Linked DNA regions of Homo sapiens: region 2 is linked to region 1. Evidence: fine-mapped expression QTL. Tissue or cell type: CD4 T cells. Region 1 holds a variant in brackets; the other region holds the start of a gene. All regions are shown on one strand. Distances are between the middles of the regions.

The links. PIP is the estimated chance that this variant, and not a neighbour inherited with it, causes the effect.
Region 2: it holds the start of RBM39, and the variant in region 1 is fine-mapped to the expression of RBM39 in CD4 T cells (Kasela 2017, PIP 0.95).

Annotation. Positions count from the first base shown.
Region 1 is chr20:36,545,193-36,553,296 of GRCh38, reverse strand. MYL9 (myosin light chain 9) reads right to left here. Exons shown (of 4, transcript NM_006097.5): 3 at 5,104-5,265; 4 at 1,850-4,220. The coding sequence ends at 4,048. The region is part of intron 2 of DLGAP4-AS1 (DLGAP4 antisense RNA 1); the gene reads left to right. Among named protein-coding and RNA genes, the nearest start is that of MYL9, 7.7 kb to the right of the region's middle. RefSeq lists an enhancer at 4,813-5,741. The variant G/C (reference allele first, on the strand shown) is at 4,798.
Region 2 is chr20:35,738,445-35,746,541 of GRCh38, reverse strand. RBM39 (RNA binding motif protein 39) reads left to right here and starts at 4,282. Exons shown (of 17, transcript NM_184234.3): 1 at 4,282-4,601; 2 at 5,655-5,718; 3 at 7,525-7,574. The coding sequence starts at 5,668. RefSeq lists enhancers at 3,843-3,942, 4,113-4,332, 3,694-4,379, 4,393-4,542 and a silencer at 4,803-4,902.

The DNA.
Region 1 (8,104 bases):
TGTTTTTTGGTTTAACTTGATGTATGAAAGACTGTAGAACTGAAGCTTCCAAGTTTCTGTATCTATATGAGTTTGAAATGTTTTTCTACCACCATAGTATATCAAATTAAATTATAATGTCTCTTAAATTTTAAGATCTAGGCCGGTTGCTGTGGCTCACGCCTGTAATCCCAAGCACTTTGGGAGGCAGAGGTGGGTAGATCACCTGAGGTCAGGAGTTCAAGGCCAGCCTGACCAACATGGTGAAACCCCAGCTCTACTAAAAATACAAAATTAGCTGAACATGGTGGTGCGTGCCTGTAATCCCAGCTACTTGGGGAGCTGAGGCAGGAGAATCACTTGAACTTGGGAGGCGGAGGTTGCAGTGAACTGAGATCACACCACTGTACTCCATTCTGGGTGACAGAGTGAAACTGAGTCTCAAAAAAAAAAGTTTAAGATTCATTTTGATTCTATTATAAGGTCTAATGAGGCTGCCAGAAAGATAAGGAAACACAAAAATTTTCAGAAAATAAATGGAATTTCTAATGTTTTAAAAGTGCTAGCCTTTGGAGGAATTTAAAAAAAGGACTCTGTCAGGTGTGGTGGTATGTGTTTGTAGTCTTAGCTACTTGGGAGGCTGAGGCAGAAGGATCACTTGAGGCCAAGAGTTTGAGGCCAGCCCAGGCAACAAAGCGAGACCCCATCTCTACCAAAAATTTAAAAATTGGCTAGGTGCAGTGGCACATGCCTGTAATCCTAGCACTTTGGGAGGCCAAGGCAGGTGGATCACCTGATGTCAGGAGTTCGAGACCAGCCTGGCCAACATAGTGAAACCCCCTCTCTACTAAAAATACAAAAAGTTATCCAGGCGTGGTGGCGGCTGCCTGTGATCCCAGCTACTCGGGAGGCTGAGGCAGGAGAATCGCTTGAACCTGGGAGGTTGCCGTGAGCTGAGATCGTGCCATTGCACTCCAGCATGGGCAACAAGAGTGAAACTCTGTCTCAAAAGAGAAAAACCACAAAAATTAAAAAATTAAGGCCAGGTGTGGTGGTTCACACTTGTAATCTCACCACTTTGAGAGGCCAAGGTGGGAGGATTGCTTGAGCCCAGGAGTTTGACACCAGCCTGGGCAACATAGCAAGATCCTCTCTCTACAAAAAATAAAAAATTAGTCAGGCGTGGTGGCACAGGTCTGTAGTAGCAGCTGCTCAGGAGGCTGAGGTGGGAGAATTGCTTGAGCCCAGGAGTTCTAGGCTGCAGGGACCTATGATCACACCACTGCACTCCAGCCTGAGCAACAGAAAGACCCAGTCTGAAAAAGCTAGACAAATACTAGGAAAAAATAGAAAATTTTACAGTTTTACAATGATGTTGAGCACTTAAAAATGTATTTGGTGAGTATTTAAAATGTTCTTATTAAGTGTATGTATTTTGGCCGGGCGTGGTGGCCCACCCCTGTAATCCCAGCACTTTGGGAGGCTAAGGTGGGTGGATCACAAGGTCAAGAGATGGAGACCATCTGGCGAACATGGTGAAACCCTGTCTCTACTAAATATACAAAAATTAGCTGGGCGTGGTGGCGCACACCTGTAGTCCCAGCTACTTGGGAGGTTGAGGCAGGAGAATCACTTGAACCCGGGAGGCGGAGGTTGCAGTGAGCCGAGATCACGCCACTGCACTCCAGCCTGGGAGAAAGAGCGAGACTCTGTCTCAAAAAAAAAAGAAAAAAATAAGTATATGCATTTCTTCTGAGATTCCTTTTCATGTTACCATTTTTTTCCTACGGCGTTGTCTTTTTCTGATTCAATTACTGAAGCTTTATATAGATTAGTGTTAACTCTTGTTTTGTTAAATATGCTGCAGGTATTTCCTCCCAGAATGCATTTGGCTTTTAATTTTGCTTATGGTTTCTTTAGCTCTACAAAAAGAATGTTGACTTCATGCATTTAAATCTGCCAGTATTTTCCTTTGTGGCTTCTGGGTTTTGTGCTAGACTTGGAAAGTTCCGGGGGTCCTTTACTGCTGGTCTGTGGGTGCTGCAGGTCCTGCCTTGCCCTGCCCAGAGCACGTTCCTCTTCCCTTCCTGTGGGTCAAGGTAGCCCCCAGGCCAGTTCTGAAGCCAGTGAGGCTGGACTGGTCCTGACCTCTTCCCGCCTGTGTGCGAAGCTCTTCCGTCTTCCGTCTCGGGGTGAAGGTGGGGTGAACTGTGACAGAATCGCACGCTGGGGCTTGACATCTAGATGACGCGTCCTTGCCTCCTTCCAGAAATGCCTTTGGTGCTGCAGTGGCTCTGCTGAGAGGACCTTATGACCCTGGTGTCGGGCATGTGTGGCCAGTACCCTGGGACACTCTGAGACCCCCCTCCCACACCCTTGGGGCTGGCAGCATCGAATGGGTGGCCAGACTGAGAGTTGCCCAGGGCCGTGTGTGTAGCTGGAGGCCTGCAGCCTGCTGCCGGGGGTGAGAATGTGTTTGGGACTGAGTTTGGGATACTATTTGGGCCTGGTTTGGAACTTGTTCGGGTCTCGCCCCTTCTGGAGTTGATACCAGGGACTTTTGGGCCTCTGTTTGGAGCCAGGATGAGGAGTTTCAGCCGAGCTCTGAGCAGGGCCTGGCGTTGAGGCCTGCAGGAGGTTAGGGCCTCCTGGTCAGGCACAGGGTCCCCTGGTGCTCAGCTCCCCCTTGGCCCTGATCTGGGACCTTTGCTGAGTGCTGCGGCTGCCTGCGCTGGGTGACCTCTGGAGAAGGCCTCAGGACCAAGCTGGGTCCACTCGCTGGGGTCAGGTGGGGTGGGTCCGGCCCTCACTCTTCCCTAGGCCTATTGGGTGACCCAGGCAGTCCATGCCCCTCTGGACTCTCTGCTCAGTCATTCAGCGCTCTTTCTGCCCCTCTTAGGCCCCAGGCACTGCCATCAGTGTCCCCATCATCCACCAGTAGCAGGGGTCCCGGCCCTGCCTGCCCTGCGTACACAGGGACATGGAAAGCTGTGGCCCCCATGCTGTTGGTCCTGGGGCTGAACTCGCCCTCCACCTGCCTGGGGCTGGGAAACCCCTCATTCCCACCTCCAACCCTGAGCTGCTGGGACGCCTGCCTCATCACTGTTGGAGCCTCCCTGTTCTTCTGGAACCCGGAGCTTTAGTCCTGAGGGCTGTGTGGCCTGACCTCTGCCCCCCAAGAGGCCTGGAACCCTCCACGGGATTGGCTGTGGTGATTCCCATGGTCCTCCCTTTCCCACAAGCCCTGAGAAGGCCATGAGGCCCATTCCCTCCGTCCCCTGTCCCCTGCTGGTCTCAGCTGAGCACAGAGCCCACTTACTAGGGACTCTGGTCCCTAGAGGCTTCAGGGACCATATGGCCGGAGGACACCCAGTCCTTCCCTGGGCCAGGGTGGGAGGAGCAGGGCAGTAACTGGAGATGGCAGGAGAAGGTGGGAGAGGGTTTCAGGCCCGGGGTCCCCTTACTTCACCCCAGCCACAGACACACAGACCAGAAGCAGTGCTCAGTCCTCTATTGGAGATTCTGCCCCCTCTGGGACAGATGTCCACGCTGCCCGCGACTCCTGAGCACACTCCCATGGCGGGTGGCGTGCTCTGGGTGGGTGTGCGGCAGTGGCCGGTCAGGGTGTAGGGAAGGGGACTGAGAGGGGACCTTGGTGAGCTTGCATTTGTGTGGGGATACACGTGAAGGGGTGTCTGATCCCAGGACTCAGGGCCTCTTCCTCCTGGGGGGCACACAGAGCCCCTTCCCTTCCTCCTCGGGGAACAGCCCCGGAATGGGGCCTTCCCTTGGTGCCTCTAGGTCCTGCCCTCCAGCCCATGTCCCCAGAAGGTGGTCTTTCCTTGGAGGGGTCAGAGACTATAGCCCAGGGCTCTGGGGTCACTGTGGGAACATCTGCCTCAGCTCGGCACGCACTTCTCCTGGCCTGTTTCTTCCACTGGGAACTGGGACCCTAACCCCTCAAAGGGGGATCCCTGAGCGAGGGTCATGGGCAGGGAGCTGGTATGGACGGGTGTGTGCGGGGAGGGGTGACTGGCGGGGGCTGGGGTGTCAGGGGGCTGGGGTGGCCTAGTCGTCTTTATCCTTGGCGCCATGTTTGAGGATGCGGGTGAACTCCACGTAGTTGAAGTTGCCTTTCTTATCAATGGGTGCCTCCCGGTACATCTCGTCCACTTCCTCATCTGTGAAGCGGTCACCCATGGTGGTGAGCAGCTCCCGGAGGTGGTCCTCATGGATGAAACCTGCGGGCAGGGGCAGGGTGGGTGAGAGCAGGAACTTGGGCTGAGACATACACAGCAGCCCCATCCCTCAGCCCCCTGGCAGCTCTTGCAGACCTAGAGGGGCTGGGAAGATACAATCTTAGTCTCTGGTCAGTCTGAGGAATGAGGACGTGGCAGGAGGGGTGTGGGGGTGCACGTGAAGGGGTGTCGGATCCCACGTGAAGGGGTGCCAGGGTCCTGAGGGGAGGAGTTGTGCAGTGGGACTGTCTCCGAGGTGTCACTTGGGGAACTTGAGGCTGTGCACACAGATGGTGTTGGGTGTGCCCTGTTTTAAGCGTGAGCTCTGGAGTTCCACTGCCTGAGTTGCAGTGCTGATTCCCATTCTCCCTAGCTATGTGACTTTGGGCAAGGTCCTTAACCTCCGTGTGCCTGTTTAATCTAGAAAACAGGGATGAACGTATGCCATTGCAGTGAGGGACCGTGAAGGTAGTCAGGCCCGTGCGGGCCCATGGCCATGTTACCATGGCCATCATCACCCTGACATGTCCCTGGGAAAAATGAGCTGAGGGATGGAATATCCGTTAGGAGATCCGAGGAG[G/C]GGGGCCAGTTTCTATACCTTCTTGGCAAGAAAGGCATGAAATGGTTTGATTTCTGGAAAGGTCTAAAACAGATGGAGAATGTGCATTGGGCCAGCGGGGGAGATCACGAAGGCAGGAGTCTTGGGGCATGGGCTGTTCTGGCCTAGCCTTTGCGGCGACAATAAGGAGGTGGCCTGGCTTTTATAGTTCTGGTGACAGAACCTGGGAGATGGGTGATGTCTGTTCTGGCCCTTAGGGGCAGAGGCACTGAATGCCTGGGCCCTGTTCCACTTGCATGCAGAGTGGTGGTAGGGGGCGCCACGGACCTGAGGCTTCCTCGTCGAAGCAGGCAAAGGCGTTGCGAATCACATCCTCGGGGTCCGTGCCGTTCAGCTTCTCCCCAAACATGGTGAGGAACATGGTGAAGTTGATGGGCCCCGGGGCCTCGCTCATCATGCCCTCCAGGTATTCGTCTGTGGGGTTCTTCCCTGTGGCAGGTGGGGTGTTCCAGCCTGTGGTCCTGGGCCCTCTGTCCCCAGCTGGGACAACTTGCACCCCCGTCCCCCACCCCTGCCCTTCACCGCTCCGTGTGAGACGGGAGGTAGTGGGTTTTGTGAACTGGAAAGCATGGCTCTAGCGCAGCCACAGCAGTGGGCGCCCGGAGTCCCTGGCTGCTCCCACCAGTTTCCTCCTGTGGCCTGGATGTCAGCAGCCGGCAGTGCTCACTAAAGTGTAATAAGAACAACCCTCTGCAGACTGCTCGCTGTGGCTGGTCGACCACGTGCCTTATTGCATTTAACTTTCACCACCCTGTGAAGTCAGCATTCTTACCCACTTCACAGGTATGGAAGCTGAGGCACAGAGAGGCCAGGTGACTTGTCCAGGGTCAGACAGCAAGTAAGGAGGAGACTTGAGTAGACCTGGCATTTGAACCCAGGCAGCCTAACTCCAAAGTCCAGACACAGTGCTTTGCTGTCAGACAGGCCTGGGTTTGGATCCCAGCTGTGCACCTTGGTTTTCCCCATCTCTTAGGGGAATTGTGAAGACAGTAGTTGCAAAAGGCTCATAACAATGACTGGCACAGGCCTATGGACTGGAATCAACTGCTGGGTTTCTATTGCAGCCCCACTACTTGGTAGCTGTGTGACCTTGGGTAAATTACTTAACCTCTCTGAGCCTCAGTTTCCTTGTTTGTAAAGTGGGAATAATTGTATCTGTTCAATAGGATTGCTTTGAGATTTAAGATAATACCTGCAGGGCTTCTTCTTATTATTATATTTGCTGCTCTTGTTTTTAACTTGAAGATAAGGGTGTGACTCACCTGCAGACCCACGGATATGAGCTACAAACACAGTGCATGTTTTTCTGGGTGGACACCCAGGGCTGTCATGAAGTCTCAGGGGTTCAGGGGCCTGGGTGCAGGGTGTGGCCTTGGAAATAGGAAGTTTTCATGTCCCTGAGCCTCACATACCCTGCTGTGTCCCCCTGGGATGGCCATGGAAGCTGAGGCCCAAGAGGAGCTGTGACGCCAGGACACTGGGGTACTTAAGGCCAGCCCCTTCTCTCACCAGGCCTCAGTCCTTCCACGAAGCTGGGAAAGCCCCAGATAAGAACCCTGGAGTTGGCCAGGCGTGGTAGCTCACACCTGTAATCCCAGTACTTTGGGAGGCCAAGATGGGCTCTGGAGTTTGAGACCAGCCTGGCCAACATGGCGAAACCCTGTCTCTACTAAAAATACAAAAATTAGCCGGGCATGGTGGCGCACGTCTGTAATCCCAGCTACTGGGGAGGCTGAGGCAGGAGAATCTCTTGAACCTGGGAGACGGAGGTTGCAGTGAGCCGAGATGGTGCCACTCCAGCCTGGGCAACAGAGTGAGATTTTGTCTCGGGGGGAAAAAAAAAGAACCCTGGAGTTTACTTCCTGCCAGGTGACCTCCTGGGGGAGGGAGCCTTCAAGCGAGCCTGGCCAGAAGCGGGGAGAGGTTTGGTGCTCAGGGCCGGGGGCAGCGTGCTGTCAGTTCTCCCACTCAGGTTTGCCTGGTTCTCCTGCTCAGTGCCTCGTGGGGAAATGTCAGGGTCATGGCCCCATTTCACAGGAAGAGGAAAGTGCACAGGGCCCTACCAGGGACTGACTCTCTGGCCTCAAAGCTCGAGGCTTGACTGTCACGGGGCTGTGTCCTCTGGTCCTGGACTCTCCCTCCCCCAGGCAGTGTCTGGTCTGGATGCTGTCACTCGGCATGAGGGGTACGCGGGAACTGGGCTGAGAGTGGCTGGCTGTGGCCAGCACTTTGGGAGGGATGTTGGGGCAGGCCCGTGGGTTGGGGCATGGTCTGTGGAGGCCTTGCCTCTGGGCCTGTGTTTCCCCATCTGCAGTAGAGAATTGGACTTGATTTTTGTACCCTGTTAGTTCTAAGGTCCTGATCCTGAGGAAGTCACTGGGACCAGAGAGGCTATGAGAGCCTGAGATGGGTGACCTCTGAAGGAGGGGAGCTGGTCTGGCCGCCCCTCTAGGCCTCAGTTTCCCCATCTGTGCAGTGGGCAGCCTGCAGTTCACACTTTCATTTAGATGCTGACCTCTTTCTTTCCTTTCTTTCTGTTTTGAGACGGAGTCTTGCTCTGTCGCCCAGGCTGGAGTGCAGTGGCGTGATCTTGGCTCACTGCAAACTCCGCCTCCCAGGTTCACACCATTCTCCTGCCTCAGCCTCCCGAGTAGCTGGCGCCCGCCACCACGCCCAGCTAATTTTTGTATTTTTAGTAGAGACGGGGTTTCACCATGTTAGCCAGGATGATCTCGATCTTCTGACCTCGTGATCCGCCCGCCTTGGCCTCCCAAAATGCTGGGATTACAGGCGTGAGCCACAGCGCCTGGCCAGCTGACCCCTTTCTTTAAATGAAATGATACCTGGCAGCCCAGTGCACAAATCTGCCTAAGACAGGCCCACTGTGGAGTCAGCCTGTCTACGTTCAGACCCTGTGGTGGACCTGCTTTGTGCTTCAGTTTCCCTGTTTTTTTTTTTTTTTTTGAGATGGAGTCTCGCTCTGTTGCCCAGGCTGGAGTGCAGTGGGGCGATCTCGGCTCACTGCAACCTCCGCTTTCCGGGTTCACGCCATTCTCCTGCCTCAGCCTCCCAAGTAGCTGGGACTACAGGCGCCCGCCACCACGCTCGGCTAATTTTTGGTATTTTTAGTAGAGTCAGGGTTTCACCGTGTTAGCCAGGATGGTCTCGATCTCCTGACCTATTGATCCGCCCGCCTTGGCCTCCCAAAGTGCTGGGATTACAGGCGTGAGCCACCGCGCCCGGCCCAGTTTCCCTGTTGAATGGACTA
Region 2 (8,097 bases), 810 kb after region 1:
AGATACAATTTCATCTGCCTAAATCAGGCAAAGGTCACATGAGTGTTAAAATTAATTACATCTATATGAAATGGGCTTAAGTTTCCCATTGTCCTAGTGATATGGGGAAAAAAAAAGGGTCAGGCATGCTGGCTCACGCCTGTAATCCCAGCACTTAAGGAGGCATAGAGGAGAGGATCCCTTGAGCCAGGAGTTGGGGACCAGCCTGGACAACATGGCAAAAACCCAACTCTACAAAAAATACTAAAATTACCTGGGCCTGGTGGCATGTGCTTGTAGTCCCAGCTACTTGGGAGGCTGAGATGGGAGGATCTCTTGAGCTCAGGAGGTCAAGGCTGCAGTAAGCTGTGATTTTGCCGCTGTACTCTAGCATGGGTGACAAAGTGACACTGTTTCAAGAAAGAAAAAGGCCGGGCGAGGTGGCTCACGCCTATAATCCCAGCACTTTGGGAGGCCGAGGCAGGCAATTCCCTTGAGGTCAGGAGTTCGAGACCAGCCTGGGTAACATGATGAAACCCCATCTCTACCAAAAATACAAAAAATTAGCCGGGTGTGGTGGCATGCTCCTGTAATCCCAGCTACTTGGGAGGCTGACGCAGGAGAATTGCTTGAACCTGGGAGGCGGAGGTTGCAGTGAGCTGAGATTGTGCCATTGCACTCCAACTTGGGCGACAGAGCGAGACTCCATCTCGAAAAAAAAAAAAATATATATATATACATATATATACACACATGCACACACACACACACACACATATATATATATAGAGAGAGAGAGAGAGCGTGAGCCAAGAACGCGCCATTGCACTCCAGCCTGGGCAACAAGAGTGAAACTCTGTCTCAAAAAAAAAAAAAAAGAAAAGAAATGTTAAATGCTTGAGGTGATGGATTACCCCAATTACTCTGATTTGATTATTACACATAATATGCCTTTATCAAAACATCACATTTGAAGCCCAAATCTCTACAAAAAAAAATTTTTTTTTTGAGAAAGAGTTTCGCTCTTGTTGCCCAGGCTGGAGTGCAATGGCGTGATCTCGGCTCACTGCAACCTCCGCCTCTCAGGTTCAAGTGATTCTCCTGCCCCAGCCTCCCAAATAGATGGGATTACAGGCATGCGCCACCACGCCTGGCTAATTTTGTATTTTTAGTAGAGACGGGGTTTCTTTATGTTGGTCAGCCTGGTTGCAAACCCTCAATCTCAGGTGATCCACCTATCTCGGCCTCCCAAAGTGCTGGGATTATAGGAGTAAGTCATCACACCCAGCCCAAAAAATTTTTAAAAAATTAAGCTGGGCATGGTGATGTGCACTTGTTTTTCTAGCTAATTGGGAGGCTGAGCTGGGAGGATTGCTTGAGCCCAGGAATGCAAGGTTACAGTAATCTATGATGTTGCCACTGCACTTCAGCCTGTGGGACAGTGTGAGACCCTGTCTCAATTAAAAAACGAAACAATTCTACTTGCTGTAGATTGTTGGGGACAAAAAACAAAACAAAACCAAACCACATGTATCTGATAAACATATACATTTAAAATGTACCCTTAATAATTAAAAAATTAAAAATCCACATTGGTAAAATACATTTAGTTTTCAGCCAAATTCTCTAAGTATATTCATTACCTTTTTGGCTCTATTTCAAGCTCTATTCCTCCATCTTTTGAAAGCAAAATGATGAAAGGGGAATTAATTTACATAGAAAGTTCATGAACCAGAGTTAGTGAAGTTTTGTAAAGTGAATGAGAAGCATCTTATGTTCGTGATATTTTCTTTTGTGTTAAGAGACAGGGTCTTGCTCTGCAGCCCAGGCTGGGGTGAAGTGGCACGTGATTCTAGCTGACTGCAGTCTTGAAGTCCTGGGCCCAAGCTATCCTCCCATCTCAGCCTCCTGAGTAGTTGGAACTACAGACATGCATCACCACGTCTGGCTAATTTTAAATTTTTTGTAGAGACAGGGTCTTGCTATATTGTCCAGGCTGGTCTCAAACTCCTGGACTCAAGCAATCCTCCTGCCTTGGCCTCTCAAAGTGCTGGGATAACAGGCCATGAGCCGCCATGCCTGGGGATATTTTCTTTTAAACATAAAAAATACTTGTTTCAGAAACTTGATTTTTCCAAACGGCTTTTCTTGATGATCTGCTAAGTTGCCATATTGCCTCTGATGGTCCTTGAGCAGAAAACTATTTAAGGGACCTTAAATCATCAAGCGACTTAGAGCTTAAATCCTTCCTCTTCCCAAACAAGAAGTCTAGCGGTTAAGGTCAAATTCTGTCATGTCATGTTCCTAAACAAACAAGAAAAACCAAGTGCCATCTTCATGCTTTCATTTTGCACTAGTCATAATACTGGAATTACCGAGGGGCAGGAAGAGATAGCAAAGGTTAGCTTGCTTTATTTCTGACATATTATGCTTCAATTTCCTGTGACAGTTTTCTTTTCTTTCTTTTTCTTTCTTTTTTTTTTGAGATGGAGTCTCGATCTCTGTCACCCAGGCTGGAGTGCAATGGCATGATCTCAGCTCACTGCAACCTCTGCCTCCCAGGTTCAAGTGATTCTCCTGCCTCAGCCTCCCGAGTAGCTGGGAATTGCAGGCGCCTGCCACCTAGTTTTTTTTTTATTTTTAGTAGAGACAGGGTTTCGCCATGTTGGTCAGGTCTTGAACTCCTGACCTCAGGCGGTCCACCCGCGTCGGCCTCCCAAAGTGCTGGGATTAGATGCATGAGCCACTGCGCCCAGCCTCCAGAGCGAGACTGTCTCAGAAATAAAATAAAAAGAGGATCTGAATTTTCAGAAAAAGGATTAAGGGAGTATTCTAACTACAAAATAACTGTTATTAATAATCCTCTAAGATAAATCCTAACCTGTGTGTAAAGTTAACCTGAGAGGCAAAACCACTTAACATCTATATTTGCTCTAAATAATTTTGTTTAGCAGAAACAGAAGTTAGCTGTTTTGAAGATCAAATATTTACCAGGCGTTTTACAGACATTATATCATTTAATCTTCACTATAGCCCTTCTGAGCCTTCATTCATTAATTTACTGAGGGTCCACTTGGGCAGACATGCCCTGCTAACCTCTAAAAATTCAGTACTGAGCATTACCTGCCTTCCTCAGTCTCAAGTAGCTTAGACTAGCTACTAAGTACGTCCTCTTTTAAATCAGGAAATGAAAGATCCCCTCTGAGAGGTTAATTTGCTTGTCCAAGGTCACACAGTGTTGCAGCAGCTAGTTACACTAATCAAGGCGTCTCATTTCCAATCTTTTCTGCCCTCAATCATTAGACTGTTAAGATTAGAGGGTAAGATTTTTGCTTTGAAGACTTCTTTCCAGTTTTTTTTCCCAGCATCTAGGAGGAAACCTCACACAGTACTGACCAAAGAACAAATGGCTAATTCATACTCTAATTACCTGGCATCTAGAAGACTTCAGGGGAGAGGAGCCAGGTCCCAGGGGGAAGGGGGCCTTTTTTTTTTTGTTGGGGGGGTGTCTTATTTTTTCACCAAATCGTCCAGTAATATTCAGGAAGGGGAACATTTTTGAAGGAACGGTAGCAACCCTGACACAAGAGCTGATTAAATTCGGGGCACAAAACTGATCCCATGCCAAGGGAAGCAAGAGTTTATTTTTTCCACCTTTTTTTTGCTTTTCTCCACTATTTCCAAGGTTGTTTCAAAGCTCGACAGTGGAGGCCGCGCCATTGGCTCCAAATGACAGGGAAATCTATTTTTATTATCTCCCCCTCTCCCCCTACCCCTAAAGATCTCTTCTTCTGGCCTTCTGATACACTTTTCCACTTCCTCTCCACCCTCAGCGGATAATCTGAATATGGCCGTTTTATCCTATCGCCATAAGGACTAGGTTGCCTTATGGCGACCTTGACAGCCATCTGTGTGGGAGGCCGGAGCGGGGGCGATCGGCTGTGCCGGAGGAATCTTCAGATGGCCGTGAGGAGGCGCCACGAGGGGGAGGTGACCGCTGAGCTCCACTCAGCGAAGAGCTCTCTGAAAGATTGACAGGCAGCCTACCAACTGTCTTTGCCCTAGAGACCCGCTCTGTCTCGCGAGATTTGGGTGCTTACGCGGAGGGGGAGTGAAAGGCGCCTCACTGAATGGGGGATGGGAATATCTGTGGCGCAATCATTGCGCGAGATTGGGCTACGGTCGCCGGAGCCATACTTAGGTCTCGCGATACTTCGGCCGCTCAAATTTGGAGCTTGGGGCAGCTTCTCGCGAGAGCCCGTGCTGAGGGCTCTGTGAGGCCCCGTGTGTTTGTGTGTGTGTATGTGTGCTGGTGAATGTGAGTACAGGGAAGCAGCGGCCGCCATTTCAGGGAGCTTGTCGACGCTGTCGCAGGGGTGGATCCTGAGCTGCCGAAGCCGCCGTCCTGCTCTCCCGCGTGGGCTTCTCTAATTCCATTGTTTTTTTTAGATTCTCTCGGGCCTAGCCGTCCTTGGAACCCGATATTCGGGCTGGGCGGTTCCGCGGCCTGGGCCTAGGGGCTTAACAGTAGCAACAGAAGCGGCGGCGGCGGCAGCAGCAGCAGCAGCAGCAGCAATCTCTTCCCGAACACGAGCACCACAGGCGCCCGAAGGCCGGAACAGGTACGGGGCGTTGCGGACCCGCGTATTATCTCAGCTTTCTCGAGGTTTGGCTCCATTTTGGGCTGAGGGGCGCTTTTGGAGGTCTTTAGCGACCGGGGTGGGGGGTGGTTTTCGAGAAATCGGCCCTGTTTCAGTGACCGCGCCCTTATTTTCCAGTCGGGTATAGTCTGGATTCTTGGGGCGGTAGGGACCCCCGAGAGGCCGCGGTAGAATGGTGACCTGTCTCCTTCGAGGCCTGGGCCGGCCGCGACCTCCCAACATGGCGCCAGTTGAACGCTGCCTTGGCTCATAACCCCTCCCAATGGAGGGAGTTTCTCTTTGCCCCTAAAATGGCAGCGCGGGTTTTTGCCCGGAAAGAGGCGCTCTCGTTCGGGTCTCCCAGTTTCTGTTTTTGGAGTTGACAGCAGAGTTTTAAATATTGGATATTGAAGTCTTCATTTTCGTGTGTTTCGTGTAAGAGGCGTTTTGGATTTACTTACGTAAGCCAAACCTGGTTAAAGTGCATGTCACTTTAGTCATTAATTGTAGGGCTTTTGGAGGTTTTTCTTAAGTTTTCGAGTGTGTCGGCTGAGAAGAAAAATTCAGTCGATTTGAAAAACGTTTACCAGGCCGGGCGCGGTGGCTCACGCCTGTAATCCCAGCAGTTTGGGAGGCAGAGGCAGGCGGATCACTTGAGGTTAGGAGTTCGAGACCAACCTCATCAACATGGTGAAACCCCGTCTCTACCAAAAATACAAAAATTAGCCGGGCGTGGTGGCAGGCGCCTGTGATCCCAGCTATTCGGGAGGTGAGGTGGTAGGATCGCTGGAACCTGGGAGGCGGAGCTTGCAGTGAGCCGAGATCGCGCTACTGCACTTCAGCCTGGGCAACTAGAGCGAAACTCCGTCTCAAAAAAAAAAAAAAAAAAAAAGAAAAATGTTTACTCACGGAATCGTCTTGTTCTTTTCCTAGGCGTTTAGAGAAAATGTTAGACGATATAGGCAACAAGAGTGAAACTTGTTTCACATTGTAAGAGAAATGTTTACTCAAGAAATTGTCTTGTTCTCTTCCTAGGCGTTTAGAGAAAATGGCAGACGATATTGATATTGAAGCAATGCTTGAGGCTCCTTACAAGAAGGTGAGAAAAAACATGTCGGTGAGGTTTATATATTTCTTAATTTAGCATTATTCACGAAACTACTGCTGAAATGTAAACTAACCTCCCCGGAGCCCTCTTGATTTATCTTATCAGAGATGCATTACGTGTAACTTACAAAAGTAAATATATGCTATTGATGTAATAATATTGTGCAGTAGTTTCACTTCAGCGTGATGAATAAATGCCCATCTATCTCTCTTTGTAGACTTGCCTAACGATATCTCACCTCTACTCCCATGAATTCACCTTTGATTCCAGTGTGAACTGTCAATCATAAGGTAGTAATTGAGTGACTTATCGCTGTACCGTGGTCCCCTAGGTAAAATGACTCAACTAAGAATTACCACCTCCAGTTTGGTATAGCAAAAAGGTGAATGTAGTGGTTTGGGAAAAAGCAGGGGTCCAAGAATAACAAAGCATGACCAGTCTGTGGCAAGTTAAATCTTCTAACAGTCTTATAAGAAGAAATGGGTGAGATTTTAAAATTTATGTATCTATGTAAGACTGGTGATAGTAAATCTTAAAACAGTCCAGTGGCAATCTGCTGCTCAGTTAATAATTACTAAAATTCTTGGATCCCTGAATAGAAATTAAAAAAAAAAAATACAAGAGGCAGTAGAGTCAATACAAGCTTAATACAAGCTTAGAGTAAATACAAGCTTAGAGTCACTTGATGACTGTTTTACTGTTCTCCATATTGTTTTTATTTTTAATTAGGCCCTACCATAGTATTTCACACTAAAAACAAAGGAATTATATTGGCTAATATAGTCTTTGACTCATTTCGGTATCTCAGTAAAAGTAAACTGTCTTTTCATTGTTTCACCAGTTGGTGGTGAAAATAGCAGTATGCATGCATTATCACTGGTGTCACAAACTGTAAGCTTTGTAAGTTAGCACTTTACTCCTATAGCTGATGTAATCAAACTTTAAAATAAACATTTCACTAAACCTTTTAAAAATAATACATTTGTTTTGGATTGTATAGCACGACCATGTGGTACCAATTTGGATGAATTCTTGATAGATTTAAATAGTGTATGTAATTTTGTAATGCTTAGACTCTTGAAGAGCTACTTTCTGTTTTAATGTTAAGATTCTTGTGTCTTAGTTTTTTTTAACATGGATGTAATTCCATGTAAACAGGTATGGAAGTAGGAAATGTTTAGGCTGGACTTGGTGGATTATTAATTGACTTTCTTGGGTTCTTGGGAGTCAACATTACTAAAGCAGTGTGAATCCCTGTTTGCTTCAGGGCGAGATGTGTGACAGAGGTGGCATCAAGCTCTTACAGTCCCAACCCTCCAACGGAAATGGGCGAAGATCTCAGGAATGGCATCGGTCACAGGAAATCGATAGTGGCTGGCTGCTAGCATGGCCACTTGGGGCTTAGGCAGAAATAGAGCCATGGTACTGACCAAAGGGACCATAGCACATGGAATAAAACTCAAAACAGGACTTCATGTTTTATGGAAATTATATTTAACCACTTCAACATTGTAAATCTGGATAACTTTTAATATCTAAACTATATAAGAAAGTAAAATTTAACATGTTAATATGGAAAATTTTTTTATTTTTGTATCTTGATGACTTAAATGTAAGCAACAAAGTGGTTAAACACATACCCATCTAAATTTTTTTATAGCCTTCCATGTTAAACTATAAGTAAATAATTAGTTTTAAAATTGTTTTGTATTTTCTTATTCCTGTTCCCTTTACCCTTTGACAACTTGAAATGTTACCACTTCGTCCTCATGATGTTCTTCTATCAACCCTGCTTAGGATGAGAACAAGTTGAGCAGTGCCAACGGCCATGAAGAACGTAGCAAAAAGTGAGTTTTAAGAAGGGGCTTGGGGGAGGGTGGTGAGCTTTTTTGTGGTTTTAGACCTTAAGTTGTGTTCCTGTGGCTAAAGTATACAAAATTCTCTTCTGAAGCTTTTCTTTGCTGCTTTTAGAAAATTGGTTCTTTGCCTTTTGAGACAAACTCTTGGAGGAACTGTGGATTTTTTTGCTTAGATTTCAGAATATAGTTTCAGATACCTTCCCCTCCAAGTCCATCATGACAATCTGGTGACAAGTTCTGTATTAGAGGTTGTCTTGTTTTAAATTTGTTAACTTTGGTTTGATATTTGGTTATCTTACTGATAAAACTGTTATATATCCATTGATCTTAAAAGGTAGAAAGAGTTAAATTAGGTGATAACTAGGCCATGGAAAGTATTGTTTGCCCTAAAGTGCCGAAGGAGTCAAAGCTGTGAATTATTTCTGCAACTTGCTGCTCAGAGGCCCTTTTGGAAGTGATGGAACAGGTACTTAAGTACTTCTAAAGGTGGCTTTCATTATCTTAGGCCTTT